2 separate regions of the Homo sapiens genome follow, and region 1 is linked to region 2. The links come from fine-mapping of genetic effects on gene expression. A gene starts in region 2. The other region holds a variant in brackets. All regions are shown on one strand. Distances are from middle to middle. Region 1 overlaps CCDC3 (coiled-coil domain containing 3). Region 2 holds the start of CCDC3 (coiled-coil domain containing 3).

Region 1 (10,341 bases), 35 kb before region 2:
ACTTTCAAAGGAAGGCTTTGCATGAGGAAGTTAATGGAGCTTAAGTGCATTTCATGGTGGAAACAGAGGGTCTCCCACCCCTAAGTAATTAGATGAAATCAGCACAATTTCCATTTCAGCCCTTTCCTTGGTTCATGCTGCTCAACCCCTCATGAAGCTTCCAAGTAGCTAGCTGCAGGCTGAACTTAAAATATTCCATAAATATGGAGAAATACCCCCACTGACCCATTTTTGAAGGGTATGCATAGGAGGAAATGTAAACCTCTGATAAGGAATAAAGGATTACTTGGACCCGTATATGCTAAGTGCCAAGCCAGACAGATGGGCAAACATCACATTTTATGAGATTGATTGTAAATAATGGAACGTTGCTCTCTGAAAAGATTGAAAGTAAGTTTGATAAAAGGCCAAGAAGAATGAAAACAGAAACTGCTATCTTCATGCTGTGTAAGAGCTCCCAAATTTCTCCAGGCCTTCTTCGGCTTCTCTGAAGTGGAAGGATTTGATATGACAAATTCTCCTGTCACATAGACACCCTCCCTGAAAGTAATTGGCTTTGCATTCAAGAAAAACACGTAACGATCAGTAAGCCCCCAAATCTCAAGGTTGCAAGAATAAAACTTGATGCATTAATGAAGTGCCATAATAAAATGGGCTTTTGGCCGGGCACAGTGGCTCACGCCTGTAATCCTAGCACTTTGGGAGGCCGAGGCAGGCGGATCACGAGGTCAAGAGATCAAGACCATCCTGGCCACCATGGTGAAACCCTGTCTCTACTAAATATACAAAAATTAGCCAGGTGTGGTGGTAGGTGCCTGTAGTCCCAGCTACTCAGGAGGCTGAGGCAGGAGAATTGCTTGAACCTGGGAGCTGGAGGCTGCAGTAAGCCAAGATCGCACCACTGCACTCCAGCCTGGTGACAGAGCAAGACTCTGTCTCAAAAAACAAAAATTTAAACAAATAAAATGGGCTGTTACATTTCGAACGGCTTACAACTGTCACTGTTACATTTAAAATGACACATCAAGGGGTCAGAAGGAAAAGCTAAGTCCTAAGTGGTATAAAATGACATCAAACATTACAGGGATTTTTAAGTGTGAAAAACACTCAAAAATCATTCAGAATACACAAGAGTAAAGTTTTTCCCAAGTAATGCATCAAACATAGATCAGGAAGGTTATTTTTATTTATAGCTAAAAGCTTAGGAAGCCAATTTTCTTCTTTTCCTTCTTTTTGGCTAGGGTTGACAGCTTTTATATGGTTTCTTCCAAGCTTTATGTGTGTGTTTTCATAAAAAGATTTAAACTTACATACTTATATACACTATTTTCCACCTCCATTCTTCCCTCATCAAAAGTAATGGGATCTATGCTTTTTATTTGGTTAAGAGACCTTGGCTGTTTTAAAAATACGTCTGCAGTTAAACACCACTTTCAACTAGTGAAAGAAAATAGCTGTGGGAAAGAAGAGGCAATTGAGACTGGGTTTCATTAACACATTAAGCGATCATATTTTTTCTTTATTTAGAAGGCTGCTTTACCTCCTCTCAAGATACAGACTATGACCAAACATAGGCCAACTGCTCACTCCATCTCCTCTTTGCTTCTGAGATCTCTTAACCTTGTTGACCTTTACAATCCATCTCTCTTCCTCTATCTCTAAACAGCACCATTCACAATGATCCTTTTCACTGGTATGGCATTGAGACTTACCAAATCCACATGCTAATCCCAATAACAGCAGCAAATACACACATAGCACTTCCCACGTCTTCAACACTTTCTAAAGAGTTTCATATATACTAACACATTAAATCATATGTTCTATCTGTTCCTCATAATGATCCTATAGGGGTTATTATGTATGTTGCCTAATTCCTGCCTTCCTTCCTATTGAACTCCAGTTTTGTTTTCCGGGTTTTTTTTTTTTTTTTTTTTTCAGACAGGATCTCACTCTAACCCAGGCTGGAGTGCAGTGGCATGATCTTGGCTCACTGCAACCTCCTTCTCCCGGATTCAAGTGATCCTCCGCCTCAGCCTCCCATGTAACTGGGAATACAGGCGTGCACCACCCATGCCCAGCGAATTTTTTGTATTTTTAGTAGAGATGGGGTTTCACCATGTTGTTCTGGCTGGTCTCAAACTCCTGACCTGAAAGTGATCCACCCAGCTCAGCCTCCCAAAGTGCTGGGATTACTGGCGTGAGCCACCAAGCCTGGCCTGAACTCCAGTTTTCTTAAAGTTGCACTGTCTTTCACATGGCCATTACTTCAGGGCGGGATGTCCCAGGAGGCGAGTCGTTATTGGTCTAAGCTAATTAAGCAGGCCTACAAGGTACAAGTCAGTGATACAACTCTGGCCAATGACATGTGAGAAAAAGCTTGCTGGTTGTGGAGAGGGAGAAGTTGCTCATGAGAATCACATTTTCCAGCCGGGAGCGGTGGCTCATGCCTGTGATTCCAACACTTTGGGAGGGTGAAGCAAGCGGATCACTTGAGGTCGGGAGTTCGAGACCAGCCTAACCAACATGGAGAAACCCCGGTTCTACTAAAAATGCAAAATTAGCTGGGCATGGTGGTGCATGCCTGTAATCCCAGCTACTCAGGAGGCTGAGGCAGGAGAATCGCTTGAACCCGGGAGGCAGAGGTTGCAGTGAGCTGAGATTACACCATTGCACTCCAGCCTGGGCAACAAGAGCAAAACTCCATCTTAAAGAAAAAAAAAAAGAGAGAGAATGACATTTTCTGTTCTTTATAAAAGCCACACCAAAATAATCTCTCCCGCTTTCAGATCTTGTTGGGTCTGTAGTTTATGCCTGGAAGTGCTGCAGCCTTTTTGCATCCATGAAGGAATCTAGCCTGAGAACAACAGTACCACGAAGAGAGAATGCCGAGCCAAAAGAATCACCAAGAGGGGACCCAGATCCCTGATTAACCCGTGCCTGGAGCTACCACTACCTTTGCTTTCTTGCCTCATGTGATAATACATTTCCTCACTGTTTGAAATTCATTGAGTCCAGTTTTCTCTTACTTGTAGCCAAAGGCATCCTTAACAATGTAATTGACTCCACTTTGCAGATGAACAAAGAGACAAAGAGGGCAAGTGACACCTACAGTCACACCACTGGTAAATGTATTAAGAACATGCAGGCATTAGGGAGTAAAGTTTATACATAATTTAAAGTAGTATGTAGGAGTTTAGGACAGGCCACCCCAAAATATGCTGCTTTGGCATAAAGACTACTTTGAGCTGGAGGAACTTGAAAAACAGTACATGCAGACAGTGGCTTTCTCTGAATTCCCTTTATCTGCCTAAAGACAAAACCTCCAAAAGGAGCTCAGTTGTCGTCAGTACCCCCACCCCTGGGAGTTTCATCAACCAGGGAAAATTAACTCTTATCACAGGAGAGGAGAATGGAGGTGACATCACACCCAAGGTTTGTCACAAGCTATCACTTATTCTGAGGGTCTATTCATCTTTCCCCAAAATCATTTTCTCTCTCCTAAATTGCCTACATCCCCCCTCCCTGCTTTCCCCAAAAAGAGGGTATATAACCTTCTAAATCTCACTGTTTTAAGGGGTATGACTTTTTTTCCTATGATGTCCCTGTGCACTTAATAAACTTGTGTATCTTTTATCCTGTTAATCTGCCTGTTGTCAGTTTATTTCATAGACCCAGTTACTAAACCTTGGAAATTAGAGGGAAAATCTTCTCCCTCCTCCCTCCCAAAGGACTTCCAAACATATTTTATAAATTATATGTACTTATACTGTCATAGTCACATATACACACCACAACTAAAATTATGGTTCAGTTCACCAACTAGAGTTCAATATAAATTTACGATTCCTACTCCCGATGATTGTTAGATTTTTGAGTGTACGTAAGAGAGATGTCACTCACAGTGTCACAAGACACATAGAAAGGCAAATATATCTTTTCTTAAACACTAATTTTTTGCTGTAACAGTACATCTTTAAAAACCAAGTGATTAGCCATGACATTCAAAGTATAAACAATTTGTCATTCGTTGTTAATGCTTCTTTTCTCATGTAATCATGAGTCATTAACTTTTGGATGCCGGCAGTTTGGAATTTTCTGTCTATAAGGAG[A/T]CATCATGCAAGACAGAATGCCAAGTTGGCTCAGCCCTAAAGAGAAGGCTTCGTGACATACACACGTTGTAAATGGCACATGGAGAAGGTGTCTGCACCAAAGTATGTAGAGAATAGGATTCAGAACACAGTTCACATTGGATGATAAATCATTGAGTCTTGTGAAAGTGAATAAGGAGTTCATTTTTGATGACCACAAATCATTAAGTTTCTCCAGCACAGAGTGAATCCACCATCCCAGGCATTTTCTTAGGTCCCCTTTGCAAGCCTTTCACGAGATGTTCCCAAGGCTGGGCCTCACTCTATCACCGTCTGTGGGCAATAAGCCCCTGGCAGTAGCGTAAATAGGCTGTGCTGAAGTCAAAGCCCACAAACTCAGTTTCTCGTTTCTCAACCTTACTCAGTTACCAGCCTTACTCATATTACTATATGGTACTCAGTTACCAGCCTTACTCATATTACTATATGGTACTCAGTTACCAGCCTTACTCATATTACTATATGAGCAAGGTTGAGAAACTAGAAACTGAGGGGCTGTGGGCTTTAAATTCAGCACAGCCTATTTACGCTACTATCTATAGGAGGAATCTCCCTTCCCCAGCCTGCTAGTTTTTGTGTAATGAGTCTTGCATTACAAGCATGCTCCTGGCTTCTCCCCAGACCCTCACACCCCTCCGGGAACAGGCAGGGACTCTGATTCCTGTACTTGCAAACAGGAACAAAGCATGCCTAGCTCTCCCCTTTTCCTCTTGGGAGCCAGCTGGCCACAGGGAGTTCCCAGTCCAGTCTGCTTCTTATCGAAGCAGAAAATTTTAGAGCATCAGACACGCCCCAGACATGGGCTACGGTTTTCCAAAGCGACCTGTGCCTCCTAAGTCCATCTAACCCTGAGGTTGGGAATCATCCCTCTTGCCTACAGATACAAGCCACACTGTATCATCTTCATCAGTTAAGAAAGGAAATCTTTGACTCAGTTAAGTCAGAAAGTGGGTGAGGAAACCAGTATTTATTGGGCGCCTTCAAATTCCAACGTGTTCTAAAATGAAGAGGTTTAACCATACCTTACTTTGTATAGCACTTGACAATGTTCAAAACAGTTTCCCGTATCTTATCTCTTTGGGTCTCCTCAACAAACCTGGGAGGAAGGCAGGGTGTGGAAATGGAAACCCAGCTATTTTAAACGAACTGTCCAGGGTAACAGCCTGTATCATCTTCCAGATCTCTTTTGCTGGAGTCCCTTCATCTTCTGGGCTTCCTCCAGCTTTCTAAGGAGTTGAACAAGCTGAGCGATTTACCCAGGGTGAGGCAGCTGTGAAACCATGCCCCTCTCCACCTTCTCCCATAAATCAGTTTTGACTTTTTAAAGGCTGGTTCCATATGCAATGTATTGACTTTTGTGCCATTCCATAAACAGCATAGGTCTTCCTATAGTGAAATGAACCCAGAACAGCTCCAAGAGGTGACTTCTCCACCAAATGAACAGACATCAGCATAAGGTAATGAGGAAACAAATAATATATCATATTCTTTTGGTGGTGTTATAATCTCCCAGTAACTAACCACAAAGAAATTAAGATATGTGAACTGCCTAAGAATTCAAAATAATTATTTTATGTTCAATGAACCTCAAAAAATCAGAGAAATATCCCAATGAGTCAGGAAAATAATAAATAATCAACATTAGAAATTTAATAGATATTACAATTATTTTTAAAAAATCAAATTCTGGAGCTGAAAAATACAATTAATAAAAAGTTCAATAGAAAATATCAACAGCAAAATTGATCAAGGAGAAAAAAAGTCTGTGAACTCAAAGACAGGTTATTTGAAAATATGCAGCCAGCAAAGAAAGGAAAAAAGTGAAAAGGGATGAAGAAAGCTTCAGGATTTATGGGACAACATCAAAAGAACAAAAATACTTGAGTTACAGGAATTAAGGGAAAAAAACATAGGGGCAAAGGGGTAGGCAAGCTTAAACAATAGCAGAAAACATGCCAATTCTAGGGAAAGACACAAATATCCAGGTAAAAGAAAGTCAAAGTTCTCTAATCAGATTCAATCCAAACAAGACTATCCCAAGACATATTATCATCACACTGTCAAGTATAAAGACAGGTCGGGCATGGTGGCTCATGCCTATAATCCCAGCGCTTTGGGAGGCCGAGGCGGGCAGATCACAAGGTCAGGAGTTCGAGACCAGCCTGACCAACATGGTGAAACCCAGTCCCTACTAAAAATACAAAAATTAGCCAGGTGTGGTGGCGTGTGCCTGTAATCCCAGCTACTCTGGAGGCTGAGGCAGGAGAATCATTTGAAGCTGGAAGGCAGAGTTTGCAGGCAGCCAAGATCACACCACTGTACTCCAGCCTGGGTGAAAGAGCGAGACTTCACCTCAGAAAAAAAAAAGAAAATACAAACACACACACATACACACACACACACACACACACAGAGTATCCTAAAAGGAACAAGAGAAAACAGGAAAACAATATATAAAGAAGTTCCAATAAGGCTAGTGGCAGATTTCTCAGTAGAAACCTAAGCCGTGAAAAAGTGGGATGATATATTCAAAGTATTGCAGGAAAAAACTTGTCAACCAAGAACACTGTACCTAGCAAGGCTGTACTTCAGAAATGGAGAGAAAGACTTTTCCCAACAAACAAAAGCTTAGTAAGTTCATCACCAACAGACCTGTCTTACAAGAAAGGTTAAAGAGAGTTCTTCAAGCTGAAAGAAGATGCTAATGGGTAACAGGAAAATACATCAAAGTATAAAACTCATTTGTAAAAGTAAGTAGTCAAATTCAGAACAGTCTAATATTATAATGGTGGTATGTAAGTAACATTTATCTTTAGTATGAAGGTTAAAAGATGAAACTATTTAAAATAATAGCTATAATTTTTTAAGGGATATACAAGATGTAAACTGTGACATCAAAAACACAAAATGGGGAGGTGGATTAAAAGTATGGAGTATTATCATGCAATCAAGGTTAAGTTATTTACAGCTTAAAATAAATAGCCCATTACAGTATCTTTTATGTAAGCCTCAAGGTAATCACAAAGCAAAAATCTATAGTAGATACACCAAAGATAGAAAGTAAGGAATCAAAGCAAACTATGAGAGAAAATCATCTAATCATAAAGAAGACAGCAAGAGAGGAAGAAAGGAACAAAGGAACAAGCAAAAAACAATTAACAAAATGGCAATAGTACATCCTTACCTATCAATAATTATCTTGAGTGTAAACAGATTAAAATCTCCTATAAAAGACAAACTACACACCTGATAAGAAGTTAATATTCAAAACATACAGGGAACTGAAACTACTCAATAGCATGTAAACAAGTCAATTAAAAAATGGGCAAAGGACCCAAATAGACATTTCTCTAAAGACGACATACAAATGGCCCAAAGGTAAATAAGAAAATGCTCAACATCACGAATCATCAGGGAAAAGGAGATTAAAACCATAATGAACTGTCATCTCACACCTGTTAGAATGACTATAATAAAAAAGACAAGCAATAAATGATGATGAGGATGTGGAGAAAAGAGAACCTTTGTAACAGTTGGTGGGAATGTAAATTAGTACACCACTATAGAAAACAGTATGGAGTTTCCTCAAAAAATTAAAAATAGATTGGAAATTATGTTCAATTATGGTAAATATATAACAACACACACCCACAAATTAAAAATAGAATTACCCAAGGTAATTTAGTACATAAGATTCAGAAGCTTACGTACCCAGTAGTAAACCGACTACTGGGTACATATCCAAAGGATATGATAACAGTATGAAAAAGAAGCCAACCTAAGTGTTTATTGACAGATGAATGGATAAAAAAAGTTTTTTTATATAATATATATGGTAGGATATTATTCATTCTTAAAAAAATTTTAGAAATTTTTTAATATTTTAAAAAATATTTTAATAATTTTAATATTTAATATTCTAATATTTTTAAAAAATATTTTTAAGATATTCATTCTTAAAAAAAAAAGAGGAAATCCTGTCATTTGTGACAACATGGATGAACCTGGAGGAAATTATGTTAAGTGAACTAAACCAGTCACAGAAAAGCAAAATACCATGTGACCTCAGTTATATGTGGAGTATAAAAAAGTCAAACTCATAGAAACAGAGGATAAGACAGAAAAATAAAATACTTCAAAGGGACTCAGTGTATGCCTATTTAATGAAGCCATTTTAATTTAAAACAGGATAGCCTGCAATGCCTTATCTCAAGTTAAATTAGCTTCTTGATGTATTTTGGTAGTGTTTTTTCTAATGTATGGGTTTTTAGGGTTTTTTCATCAATGGTGGTCTCCAAGATGGTAATTTAAAAGTTACAGGAAGGGGTGAGTCACAGCTTTTCCTGGCAAAGGCTGAAGGATGAGGGGTGAGGGGAGATGTTGGTCACAGACGCAAAATTTCAGTTACACCGGAGGAATGAGTTTACAAAATCTACTGCATATCGCGGCAACTACAGTCAATAACACTATTATGGTGGTTCAATATACAATAGTTCAACTTTACCGTGGGTTCACTGGGGTATTAAATGCATTTTCAACTTACGGTGGGTTTATTGCTGTACAACCCCATCGTAAGTTGAGGTACATCTGTAGTATGTATTGGAAAATTGCTAAAAGAGTAGATCTTAAGGTTCTCACCCCAAAAAAATAAGTTTGTGAGGTAGTATACATGTTAATTAGCTTGATGTAGCCATTCTACAACGTATACATATATTTAAAATCATACTGTACACAATAAACATATACAACTTTTACTTAATTAAATAAATTAAAAGTCAGTCTGGGCCGGGTACGGTGGCTCACGCCTGTAATCCCAGCACTTTGGGAGGCCGAGGCAGGGCAACTGGGGATCACCTGAGGCCAAGAGTTCGAGACTAACCTGGCCAGCATGGTGAAACCCTGTCTTTACCAAAAATACAAAACGTAGCTGGGCATGGTGGCAGACACCTGAAATCCCAGCTACTCAGGAGGTTGAGTGAGGCAGGAGAATCACTTGAACCTGGGAGGTGGAGGTTGCAGTGAGCTGAGATCGCATCACTGCATTCTAGCCTGGGCGACAGAGCAAGACTGTCTCAAAAAAAAAAAAAAAATTGTCAGTCTGCAAACCAATAACTAAGCAACTATAAAGCACTTCGCAAAGTTTGGCCTATCATTAAACCCTTCTACTTCTCAACGTTCATTTTTTAAATCTGGAATCTATCTACTTACTGATGTAATGTCAAGGCTTAAATATAAAGGTCTACAGAGTTACAGAATTTTGAAGGGAAGAAAAGCCTTATACCGTTAATGTGAATCAGATCCCAAGCTGTCCACTGTCCACAGAGTGCTGCCTCCCTCCCTGTCCCCAGGGACTCATGAGCTATATTTACACCATGGAGTGTAACCCTAAGTAGCTGGCGTGAGCAGGAAAGGGGCCATCGTGGGCAGCTGAACCAATGCCTGGGGCATCGTGCGCAGCTGAAACAATGCCTGGGCAGAACATGCATGTGGCTTCTATCCTTTCGGAAAGGAATGAGGACATTTGCTTGCCTTAACAGGTCCTGCAGATTGGCCACAAATTGGTCTTTGAGAACCTTAGATCTCTCACTCAGAGCACAGCTTCTCACTGTAGCCCACCGCAGATGGAGATGCAGAAAAGAAGGAACCCACACTCTAGGTCCTAAATGGCCTCCTTGCCAGATCCAGTGTCCTCCTGGCATCCTGAATGTCAGCTCCTGGCACTGCTACCCTATTGTCCCCAGCAGCCTCTGTGCCTGGGTCCCGCCATGCCACAACCCCTGCTCTCCCGCCCGTGTTGTAACAGCTCCTTTGCTGTCTGCTGGACTGAGGTGTGTTCCCTCTTCTGGTCCCACCAGTGCCCAAGCCCCGAAGTTTTTATTTGTTTGTTTTCGAGACAGAGTCTTGTACTGTTGCCCAGGCTGGAGTGCAGTGGCGCAATCTCAGCTCACTGCAACCTCCGCCTCCCAGGTTCAAGCGATTCTCCTTGCCTCAGCCTCCCAAGTCGCTGGAATTACAGGTGCCTGCCACCATGCCCGGCTAATTTTTTTGTATTTTTAGTAGAGACAGGGTTTCACTACGTTGGCCAGGCTGGTCTCAAACTCCTGACCTCGTGATCTGACCACCTCAGCCTCCCAAAGTGCTGCGATTACAGGTGTGAGCCACCATGCCCAGCCCGAAGTTTTTGTCTTTA
Region 2 (10,732 bases):
CATGTTGGCCAGGCTGGTCTTGAACTCCTGACCTCAGGTGATCCCCCCACCTCGGCCTCCCAAAGTGCTGGGATTACAGACATATGTCAAAGAAGAAGAAATCCTTTCCCTTAGTTGGACGTACCAGCCCTTCACAGGAATAGCTTCTGTGCAAGAGCATGAAGAAGGCCTCCAGGGTCCAGGGAGCCCTGGGAGAAGCTCCCTTTGAATCTCCCTTTGAAGCGGGTTTGAATCCTGTCCTTTGCAGACATGGATGCAGCTGGAGGCCATTATCCTAAGCAAATGAACGCAGGAACAGAAACCCAAACACTGCATGTTCTCACTTATAATGGGAGCTAAACATTGAGTACACATGGACACAAAGATGGCAACAATAGACACGGGGGCCTACGTGAGGGTGGGAGGAGGGTGAGGATGGAAAAACTACCTCTCAGGTACTGTGCTCACTACCTGGGTGCGAAACGATTGGTATACCAAACCCCAGTGGCACGCAATTTACCCACGTCATAAACCTACACACGTACCCCCTGAACCTAAAATAAAAGTTGGAAGGAAAACAAAATAAAAAAGACAATAAGGGGATTCGGAAGAACAAGGCAGCTACCCTAGGCCATCCCACCAGACAAGAGAAAGACACTTCCCTCAAACCCTTCTTGATGGGTGGAAAGAAGGGAGTCTCTTAACATGTGCAAATGGGTTCGTTAATGGAAAAAAAAAAAAAAAGTCCTTATTCCATGTGATACCCACATCAGAACTCTCTCTCCAGCAGTGTGTCACATTGCCCTAAAAATGTCTTCAATCGGGGACCGGAAGAGATGGGTCACAGCCCCAGAGGCCTAGACTGGCCTGGCCCCCACTATCATCCCAACTTGGTTGTGGCAAAGCCCATTGCTTTGGAAGAGTGATGATCATCAAAATGTTCCTCCAACTCTGGCATTTGGCCCAGATCGGAAGACTCTTTTATATTTTCATTCCCAACCCTTACGATCCCGACCCTTACATTTTGCAACCACCTTGGCCATCCTGCACCTCTATGTCTTACCAACTATAGTTAAGAATCACAGAAGTGGTAGCTATGATAGCAATTTCATTTCATTTCCCTCAGCACTTTTCCTTTCCTCTAAGACAATTTCTTAGGGCCCTGTGCTGTCCATGACAATCATACACAGTCAGGAACAGTCGTAACGGCTCACATGTATTGAGCACTTACTCTTTTAAGCATTACGCTAACGGATTTACATAATTATAGTTTTTACATATTTAAATCATATTGCATTAGCCCTCTGACATAGATCAGGGGTGTCCAATCTTTTGGGCCCCATTGGAAGAAGAATTGTCTTGGGCCACACATAAAATACACTAACACTAACGATAGCTGATAAGCAAAAAAAAATTGCAGAAAAATCTCGTAATGTTCTAAGAAAGTTTACAAATTTGTGTTGGGCCACATTCAAACTGTCCTGGGCTGCAGGTTGGACAAGCCTGATATAGATGCTACTATTGTCCCTGTTCTGTAGAAGAGGAAACTGAGGCTCAGCATGCCAATCTTCATCTCATCTTGTTCTCATACTTTGGGAAGAACTCCTTATCCAACAGTAAAGCTTCAGGGATCCAAAGTTTATGAATGGTCTTTTTTAACAGCTGGGAGGTAAGGAGGGATAGCAGGAGAGAGAGAGGGCATACGCTAATACTCTCTGATCTGGGCTTTTGGAAGAGTATTCTTGATTCCTTTGGTCACAAAATTCACACAAGGTGTAGCTATACTATTGTTTTGCTGTGGCACAGGATTTAGCCAATTCTTACCCTACTGTCTTCCTGGATTTCCCAGTCACTGGAGAAAGTCGCCAGCTGCTGCCCTTGCGAACAGTTTGAAAACTGGAAAAGGCTAGAAAACATCCTTCTGTTCTCTTGAGTGTCTGGGAAGATGGCATCTTGGAAATTGACTCCGTGAGGCAAGAGGTTATAATTTTCATCCATCCTAATGGAGGAAAAAAAGGCAGACATGTAGGCTAGACAGTCAAGGGTGTACCAGCTCCAATCCAGAGTCACAGACAACTGCAACGGGCTTGCCAATTTCACATCAATGTCTGGCATGGCTCTCATTAGAGGAGTTACTACTTCTAATTATTTCTTTGTCTCACGCTACATCAGTCTATCCTTAAGGTTTTCAAAAAGATGAGTTTGAGCAAAGTATGGAGAAAACTATGTGTATGGTGCCTGTTTGTCTATTTGTGTTGTCTTCCAAGTCCCCCAAGGGGTCTTCCTTCTCAAAGAGTGTTCCTTATTTCCTGGTGAAAAAAAGGCCAGCTGTCATCACCTATGTTTAAGTTCTGTCTTTGCTATTTATCTTCTGTATGACATGAAACAAATGTCTTAACTCCTCTAAGCTTCAGTATTCTAATCTGCAAAAAGAATATAGTACTGGCTAGGTGCGGTGGCTCACACCTGTAACCCCAGCACTTTGGGAGGCCAAGGCAGGTGGATCACCTAAGGTCAGGAGTTCGAGACCAGCCTGGCCAACACAGTGAAACCCTGTCTCTACTAAAAATACAAAAATTAGCTGGGCACGGTGGCACACACCTGTAATCCCAGTTACTCAGAAGGCTGAGGCAGGAGAATCACTTGAACCTAGGAGGCGGAGGATGCAGTGAGCAGAGATTGCACCATTGCACTCCAGCCTGGGTGACAAGAGTGAGACGCCATCTCAAAAAAAGAACATATATAAGTAAAAAATAGTACCTACTTTTCTGGTGATGTCATAAGCATTGCATCAAAAACCTAAGTAAATGAAGCACTTGGTACAAAGTAAATGCAGTATGCATGTTAGTGAACACATTTAAAGGCCTAGCATTAATCAATTAGAATGATTCTTTAAAATGTCACAAAAAGAAAGAGATGAAAGTTACACTCCAGTCTACAGAAAACACGTAGGGCTCACCAGCAAGTCTCCGTTGCCACCCTCACCCCTGACAGTGACCACAGGTCCAGTTTCATCTCAGTGGGTCCCAGAATAACAGAGAAGGAATGATTTGTGTGTAGTTGTTAACACACTCCAAGGCAAGACAGCCCTGTGAAATGAAAATGTCAGACTACTGTCTTTGTATTTCTGCCCTAACTTTTGTAAACATGGTAGAGCAAAAAAGATGAGAATTGGCTGAGCACCACGGAACTATTGGACAAACTGTATTTCATGATAAAAATTTCTTTAAAAAGCCTGCTCAAACACTTGGGCTCTTTTTCCTTTGGAGAACAAAGTTCTGGTTTTGAATAGTTTTATAGATGGTTTCTCAGTATCTTTCCTAATTAAAAACATGAAACCCTAAGTTTCTCTGTATCGAGAAGGGCACTCTCTCAGTCTCACTGGCTTTATTTAGAAACTACACTTCTCTGGAAATACATACATATATATAAAAACTTAATCTAGCTGAACCACTCAAGCCAACACAAAGCAAGACGTGTTTTTTAAACTTAGATATTCTGGCTTCAATATGGAAAACATGTGTTGCCATGCACTTACAAACACCACTTTGTAGAACTGTTTTCTTTCTCAGAGAAATGCGAGCTAAAAGTGAATCTGCAGACCCACGTCAGCCTCATTCCAAATATCCTCAGTGCTACTTCCCAGACTGGGAAAACGAACTACAACCGATCACCCCAACAGTGGATTAATTTACTATCTTGATAGATAGGTTAGATTCCATTTTGATGTTTTTCTCAGTTGTTTTATATCACTCTCCAAATTCCAACTGAAGCTAACCAAAGAATTTAGAGTTCTACCTGGCACTCTCTATTCAAATTTCAGAAGAATTCAGTAGTCAATGAGAATTGACTGAATTCTTAGGCAGATGCATTCCATCTTGACCACAGGCCAAGTTCTGAAGTTCATGGAACTTCAGAAGATTCCAGTGGTCTATAATCAAAGAGGACCTCCTGGCCTGGTTCACCTCTCCACTCCTCAAAGCATTGCTACCCAGGATTTTACCAGCAGCAGAACCCCAAGCCCTAGTAAACCTTTGCTATTTCAAAGAACCTGGCAGCTGATATGAGACAGTGAAGCAATCCCGGGCTACATTCCACACCATTCACATCTTGGCATTTGAGCAAATGAGGAAGAGGAGAGAGTGGACAGCTGGTCAACTTCTAACCTGCACCAGGTGCTTTGCATGAGTTACGTTCCTCACTCAACCAGCCCTGTCTCTCACTTTACACAGGTGAGGCTATGGAAGTTCTTGAGAAGGTGTCAAGAAATGCGCTCAGAATCACGGTTAGGAAGGGCAGAGCCAAAATGCCAGCCACAGACTGATTTCAAAGATTGTTTTTCTCACCGTCCCAATCTACTCCCACTGAGGCCAGTTTAAAAACCCAAGTCAAAGGGACTGTTGGAGGGCGCTTTGAGCTTCTGTCTGCAATGCTCTTCTGTGTACAAGGCACAGAAACCTTCCCTGTCTTTTAAACCGCCTTAACCAGGGGTAGTCAGGATGTCTGTAGAGACGTCAGACGGAGCAAGAAAGATCCAAGAAGGCAAGGGGTAGGCGCCCCAGGGGCATTCTCACTTGACACCGACAGGCTGCCCGGGGAGTTACCGGCCTGGCTCTAGGTAACGGCGACCTCGGGAGGTGGCGCAGAGAGAGAGAGAGGTGGCGGCGGCGCCGCCGGGCTCACCTGAGGAAGAAGAAATAGGAGTAGTCCTGGACCACGGTGTGGGAGTGGCACGAGAAGTAGCCCAGGCCGGTGAGGTTGAGCCTGGAGCCGGCGGGCACCTCCAGCATGCTGCCCCACGCCTGGTCGCACAGCATCTCGACCTCGGCCGAGTAGAAGAGGCCCCCCTGGCCGGCGTGGTACTGCCAGGGCAGGTGGTTGTAGAGGCCGGGCGCCTCGGGGTGCAGCGCCAGCACCCTGGCGTACACGATGGTCTCGGCCAGCTCGGCGCGGCAGCCCTCGCTCAGGGGCCTCCACTCGGAGGGCAGCTGGCAGGCGCGCGCGGGCGCTGGGGGACCCGCCAGGCAGAGCGCGGCGAGCAGCAGCTGGCGCAGCATGCCGGGCCCTCCCGGGGCGCACGGGGCGGCGGCGGGGAGCCCGGGGAGCCCGCCGGCCCGGGAAGGGCAGCCCTGGGCGCTCGGCTGCTCGGGCCGCTCCCGGGAGCTGAGCGCACCGCTGTCTCCGCCACGGGGCTCGGCATGCCCGGCCCTGGCGCGCCACGCTTTAAAAGGGTCCCGGGGACTGGACGCGCCGGGCGCCCGCCTCCCGCCCTGCCCCCTGCGGCTGGGGCGTGGGCGGGGGAGGGGCGGGGAGTCGGGCGGGTCCCGGCGCCGGCTGGGGCGGGGACCAGGGACTCGGAGAACGCGGGGACGCCGGGACCCAGCCCTGAATTGGGGACAGTGGCCCAGCAATCTCCTGGCGCCCCACGATGGACGTGGTCCGAGCTTGCCAGGCGTAAAGCCTGTTTGCAAACGCAAGGCATTCATTAAAGAATGACTCTTAATTTGCACGATTACTGCCTAAGTTTTTACATTTTCTCTACATTTCAGAGTAAAAATACATAGAAACCAAATCTGACTTTATATTCCCAGAGATTAGGAAATTCAGTGTGGGCTGAGATCTCGTGCTCTCTCAGATTTGCTAGTTATTTAATGAAGATCTTAGAAAAGCTTTGATAAAAGATTCCAAAAAGCAATCATTTGGCCCTGATTTTCTTGGTTTCCATAATCCCTGATTCCATTTTCTAAACACTGTACACCTGAGAAATACATTCAGAAGTAAATCCCAAACAGCTTTTCACATCAGTGAGTGAATTTGAGGATACTGACTCCACAGTTCCATCTTTATCTCTAAAGGCAACAGGTTTTTTGTTTTGTTTTTTGTTTTTTTCTTGAGACAAGGTCTATATCTGTCACCCAGGCTGGAGTACAGTGGCTCCATCAGGGCTCACTGCAGCCTCGACCTCCCCTGGGCTCAGGTGATCCTCCCAGGTCAGTCTCCCAAGTAGCTGGGAATACAAGCACACTGCCACCCCGGATAATTTTTTGTTTTTAGTAGAGACAGGCTATGTTGCTCAGGCTGGTCTCAAACTCCTGGGCTCAATCGATCCTCCCACCTCAGCCTCCCAAAGTGCTGAACTTTCAGGCGTGAGCCCCCACATCCACCCTGAATATTTAAATTATGCAATTTCATAATGCTATTAGTCTCCCAGGGCTGCCATAATAAAATACTCTAGTCTGGTGGCTTAAATAACAGACCTTACTTTCTCAGAGTTTTGGAGGCAGGAAGTCCAAGATTAAAGTGCTAGGGTTGGTTACTGGTGAGGCCTCTCTTCCTGGCTTACAGACGGCCACCTTCTCACTGTGTCCTCACGTGGCCTTCTCTCTGTGTGTGATGGAGAAAGAGTGAGCCCTGGTCTCTTCCTCTTCTAACAAGGTCACTAGTCCTATGGGGTTATCACCCCACCCTTATGTCCTCATTTAATTACCTGCCTGAAGACCCTATTTCCAAATACAGTCACATTAGGGAGTTAGCACTTCAACATATGAATTTGGAGGTGGGAGGGGAGACATAATTCAGTCTATATGAGCTATTTAGCAGGTGTTCTGCAGGTTTGCTAGAGAAAGAGAGCAGGGATCCCAAATGGTTTATATTCCTGGCAGGCAGACTCACAGCACACACTGCCAAGTTATAATAAGAATTGCTAAACCTTAGTCATTGTTGACCATGGGCCAATCACTGTTGTAAGGACTGTACATATGTCATCTTAATAAATTCTCCAAACAATATTCTGAAGTAGATATAACTATTATCCTCATTTTACAGATAACAGGCACAGAGAAGTTAATTGACACCAAAGATCACAAAGCTACAAGTTGACCAAGCTAGGATTCAGCTCCCAGCAATCAGACTCCAGATCCATGTACTTAACTACAACACTAGAATAGGGCCAAATATAGGAAATGCTCTAAAGACACAGGTCGGCCCTTTAACCAGGATATACACAGAGCAAATTAAGAGAAAACCTTAGCAGAGTCACCAATGATGGCTCAAGGAGTGTGCAACTGACCTAACATTAATTTTGTATGACCCAGAATCCCTGCTCTATTTTAGTCCTATACTGTAACTCATCAGATAAGATAGTAAGAAAGTTTTTCTTACTAACTGCATCTTCAAGTGTCTTGAAGGCCTGGAAAAGATTTGTCTACCCCAAAAGACTGTAAGGCCCTCTCTTTTCTTTCCACATAGGTGAGCAAATAAATAAAAATCAGCAAACATGGCTGTTTTTTCTCTTGTTGTATAAACTTGACAGAATCAAAACTCTTCCAATACTTCCCACAGTGTATTTTGCAGAAGTGAGCACCTGCAAGAAATCGTCCTCATGGATTCAGCAGACACATCAGTCATGCTTTTCTCCCCTGTAAGATCTGGCAGAGTGCCTCACTGATTGGGTTTCTCTTCCTGATTGAGCCATTGCAGTGTACCGTAGTGAGCAGTTCCTCTTTGGGGACTAAGACTTCCAAACAAGCAGAGCTCAAGGTAGCCAGGAGGGGAAACAAAACTTCTGTGAGTGAATTATTGGGTTTAATAGTGACATGAGCCACTTCCATCTCTTGATTCCGAGACCTATATGTCCTGGCTGTGGGGTGGATAGTACCGTATATGTATGTTCTGTTTCAAAGCACACACAGTAAGTACACTTTAAGATGGACTCCATCATTTCAGTGTGGTGACTCCCAACTGACACTATAATTAAGTCTTCACTAAACTGTTACATCCTTCAAAATTTGTCCAGTTGCTTCCAGGTGATGGGACATGTGGTAAAACCAGTTAATTCTATGGCCTTGAGACCACTGCTGCACTTCATTGCTGTGAAAGAAGCAATGCTGTGGGAATCATTGATCAGAAACATCACTATGGGAAATTCCATGATGGTGGATAAGGTGCCCCATGAGTCCATAGATGGTGCTACTGGCAGAAGCATTATGGCAGGGAAGGCATATCCGTGTCCAGAATGTGTCTATTTCAGTGAGGACAAATCTCTGACCCCCACCCCCCACCCCAAGATGGAAAAGGTCCGATGGAATCAACCTGCCACCAGGTGGCTGACTAGTTCCCCAGGTGAATGGGGCCACATTAGGGGATCCATGTTGGCCTCTATTGTTGACATATTAGGCTCTCAGCAGTAGTAGTAGTGTTAGCTAGGCCAGCCGTGGTAAGAGGAAGTCCACATTGTTGAGGCAATGAATACCCTCTGTTTCTGCCACCATGGCCACTCTGTTTATGGGCTCATTGAGTAAGCAGTAGAGTGGCCAAGAAAAGAGACTGACAGACACCCACTGAGTACATCAATTGCCCACCTAATCACTAAGAACTTCCCCTCCACTGAATGCACTTTGGTCATCATTCACATGGGTCACAAATATCTTCACACTTGGTAACCGTTATAAGATGTCCATTCATTCACCTCTTCCCAAGATGTCCTTGTCATCAATCTTCTGATCCTATTTCTTTCAAGTCCCTAACCATCAACCAAACCACTAGCAACTGCCCACGAATCAGTGTCCATGTGTACTCCCAGCCCTCTCTTAGTCTAGACATAGCATACAACAAAATCTGCTGCTCAAAGTTCTATCGACTGGGAGAATTTTTCTTCACCAGTGTCCTTCAGGATCACCCATGAGTGAAACTGAGTAATATCTGTGTGTAATACAGAAAAATCTTCAAACCAGTCTTGTTATTTCTTCCTCATTCAACTGGAGTATCTTCAAGAGGCCATAAACCATATGAGTGGAAGAGGCAACGTACCTTCAGAGTCAAAGGAATCTAAGCCACTTGCCCATGCAACTTGCTTGCACCATCTGGACCTGCCCAATCCCAGTCTCTTGGATACCATTTCCATTTAATGGTAGATTGCTGCTGCGCACACATGGCCTTATGTCTAGGAGGGTCATACAACACCCAATTCATGATGAGAAGTTCAGATTACATAGTCACCCAGCATACCATGGTTAGGCATTCAATCTCTACCACAGCCTAGTAGCAAGGGAGATGCTATTTTTCAAAAGGCAAACAGCCATATCCAGAATAAGGCATAGATGTGCACTAAAACCCCAGAGTTTTGTGCTGTGATTTTCCTTCTGGTGCTTTCTAAAGACTCCATACAACATTCCTGTTTGCCATAAATACTTTATCACTGGACCTTCTAGATAATAAGGCTCAAGTGATACAGTGACTTGTACACAGCCTGAACTTGCTGCAGAGACTTCTCAGAACTTGCTCAACACCACTTGAAACTGGCAGCCTTAGAGATAACTCTATAGATGAATTCAAAAAGCATTTTTAAATGTGGCATATGTTCCCTCCTAAATACAAAAAGGCTGAACATACATTCTCCCTCTTTTCCCATTTAGATCATCCAAGGACCAGCAACTTTCCTTTTGCCTTGGAGGAGTGACAATTGAGCCCCCAGAAACCATACTGAGGTGGCAGGTCCCTGAATTTTTGTGGGGCCTATCTCCCACCTTATATCTTACCAAGGCCTCTAAAGTATATGGTGTTTCATGAACATCAGATCCATTCATCATACTGTCATCCATGAGGTAATCCAATGTGATGTTTTGTGGAACGTCAAGACAATCAACATCTCTGCAGAATAAATGTGATAGAGAGCAGGAGAATTGACATAGCCTGAGGCAAAACTGAAAGTATACTGTTAGCCCTGACAGGTAAATGCAAACCGTTGCTGGCAATCCTTGCAAATCAGTGAGGAGAAAAGGGCAGGTCAGTAGCTACGAAGCAAATGCTGGGAGACATATCAATTTGCTCCAGGAAAGATACTACATCTAGGACAGCAGCTGGAATTTTAGCCACCACCTCATTAAGTTCATAGTAGTCTTCAGTCATTCTTCAAGACCCATGCAACTTTTGCACAGCCCAACTGATGAGTTCAGTGGAGATGTGATAACTATCGCCACTTCTTTCAAGTCTTTGATGGCAGCATGGATTTTTGCAATCCCCTCAGGGATGCAATATTGCTTCTGATTTATTCTCTTGGTAGAAATGAAAGTTCTAGGAGCTTCTGCTTAGTCCTTCCAACAATAAAAGCCATCACCCATGGGTCAGAGAGAAAATGTGGGGGTTTGTCAGTTGTCAACTTTGGTCCCTTTGGAGAAGTCTTAGAGGAGGATTTATGGTGTGTGCATGTGGCAATGGTGCAGGGTCCTTCCTCAAGGGCACCTGGCTTACCTTTCAGTCAAAAGGCTCTGTGTCTATAAATTTACTTATGTCTAAAAGCTAGGTAAGGGGCTTCAGTTCCTCTCTGTGGGAATTCAAGTCAGGTTTTCAGCTACCAGAGTTTTTGCTGTTACATAGATCAGGCACTACACCCACAGGTTGCCCACATATTTACTTTCAAGAGACATCATGATCAACTATCCACTGTCAAAGATCTCTGCCAATCGAAACATTCTGATTACTAGTATGCCCCTCCCGACCTTTACGGTAGAGGTACTTACCTTCCCTTTGGCAGTTAAGTGCTGCCGTTTGACCCCTTTTCGATGGCATCATCCTGTACTAGAGTCATAACTTTTCTAGAAAGAGGAGAAACCACAGAGATGTTCAAGGATGCAGTACTTCCTTCATTAATATATTTCTCATTGCTGTCGTGAAGGAAATACCTCTGGGTCATCTTGTGGAATGTAGTTGGCAGGTGGCTGTGCAGGTCACACATCGAGTATTCAGTTCAACCTTC

Evidence for each region. PIP is the estimated chance that this variant, and not a neighbour inherited with it, causes the effect.
Region 1: its variant is the best candidate, but not a certain one, in a credible set for the expression of CCDC3 in fibroblasts (GTEx, PIP 0.56).

The regions. Positions count from the first base shown.
Region 1 is chr10:12,961,663-12,972,003 of GRCh38, forward strand. The region is part of intron 2 of CCDC3 (coiled-coil domain containing 3); the gene reads right to left. Among named protein-coding and RNA genes, the nearest start is that of CCDC3, 35 kb to the right of the region's middle. The variant A/T (reference allele first, on the strand shown) is at 4,113.
Region 2 is chr10:12,996,535-13,007,266 of GRCh38, forward strand. CCDC3 (coiled-coil domain containing 3) reads right to left here and starts at 5,179. Exons shown (of 3, transcript NM_031455.4): 1 at 4,663-5,179; 2 at 1,804-1,978. The coding sequence starts at 5,036. RefSeq lists enhancers at 4,308-4,808, 4,809-5,309.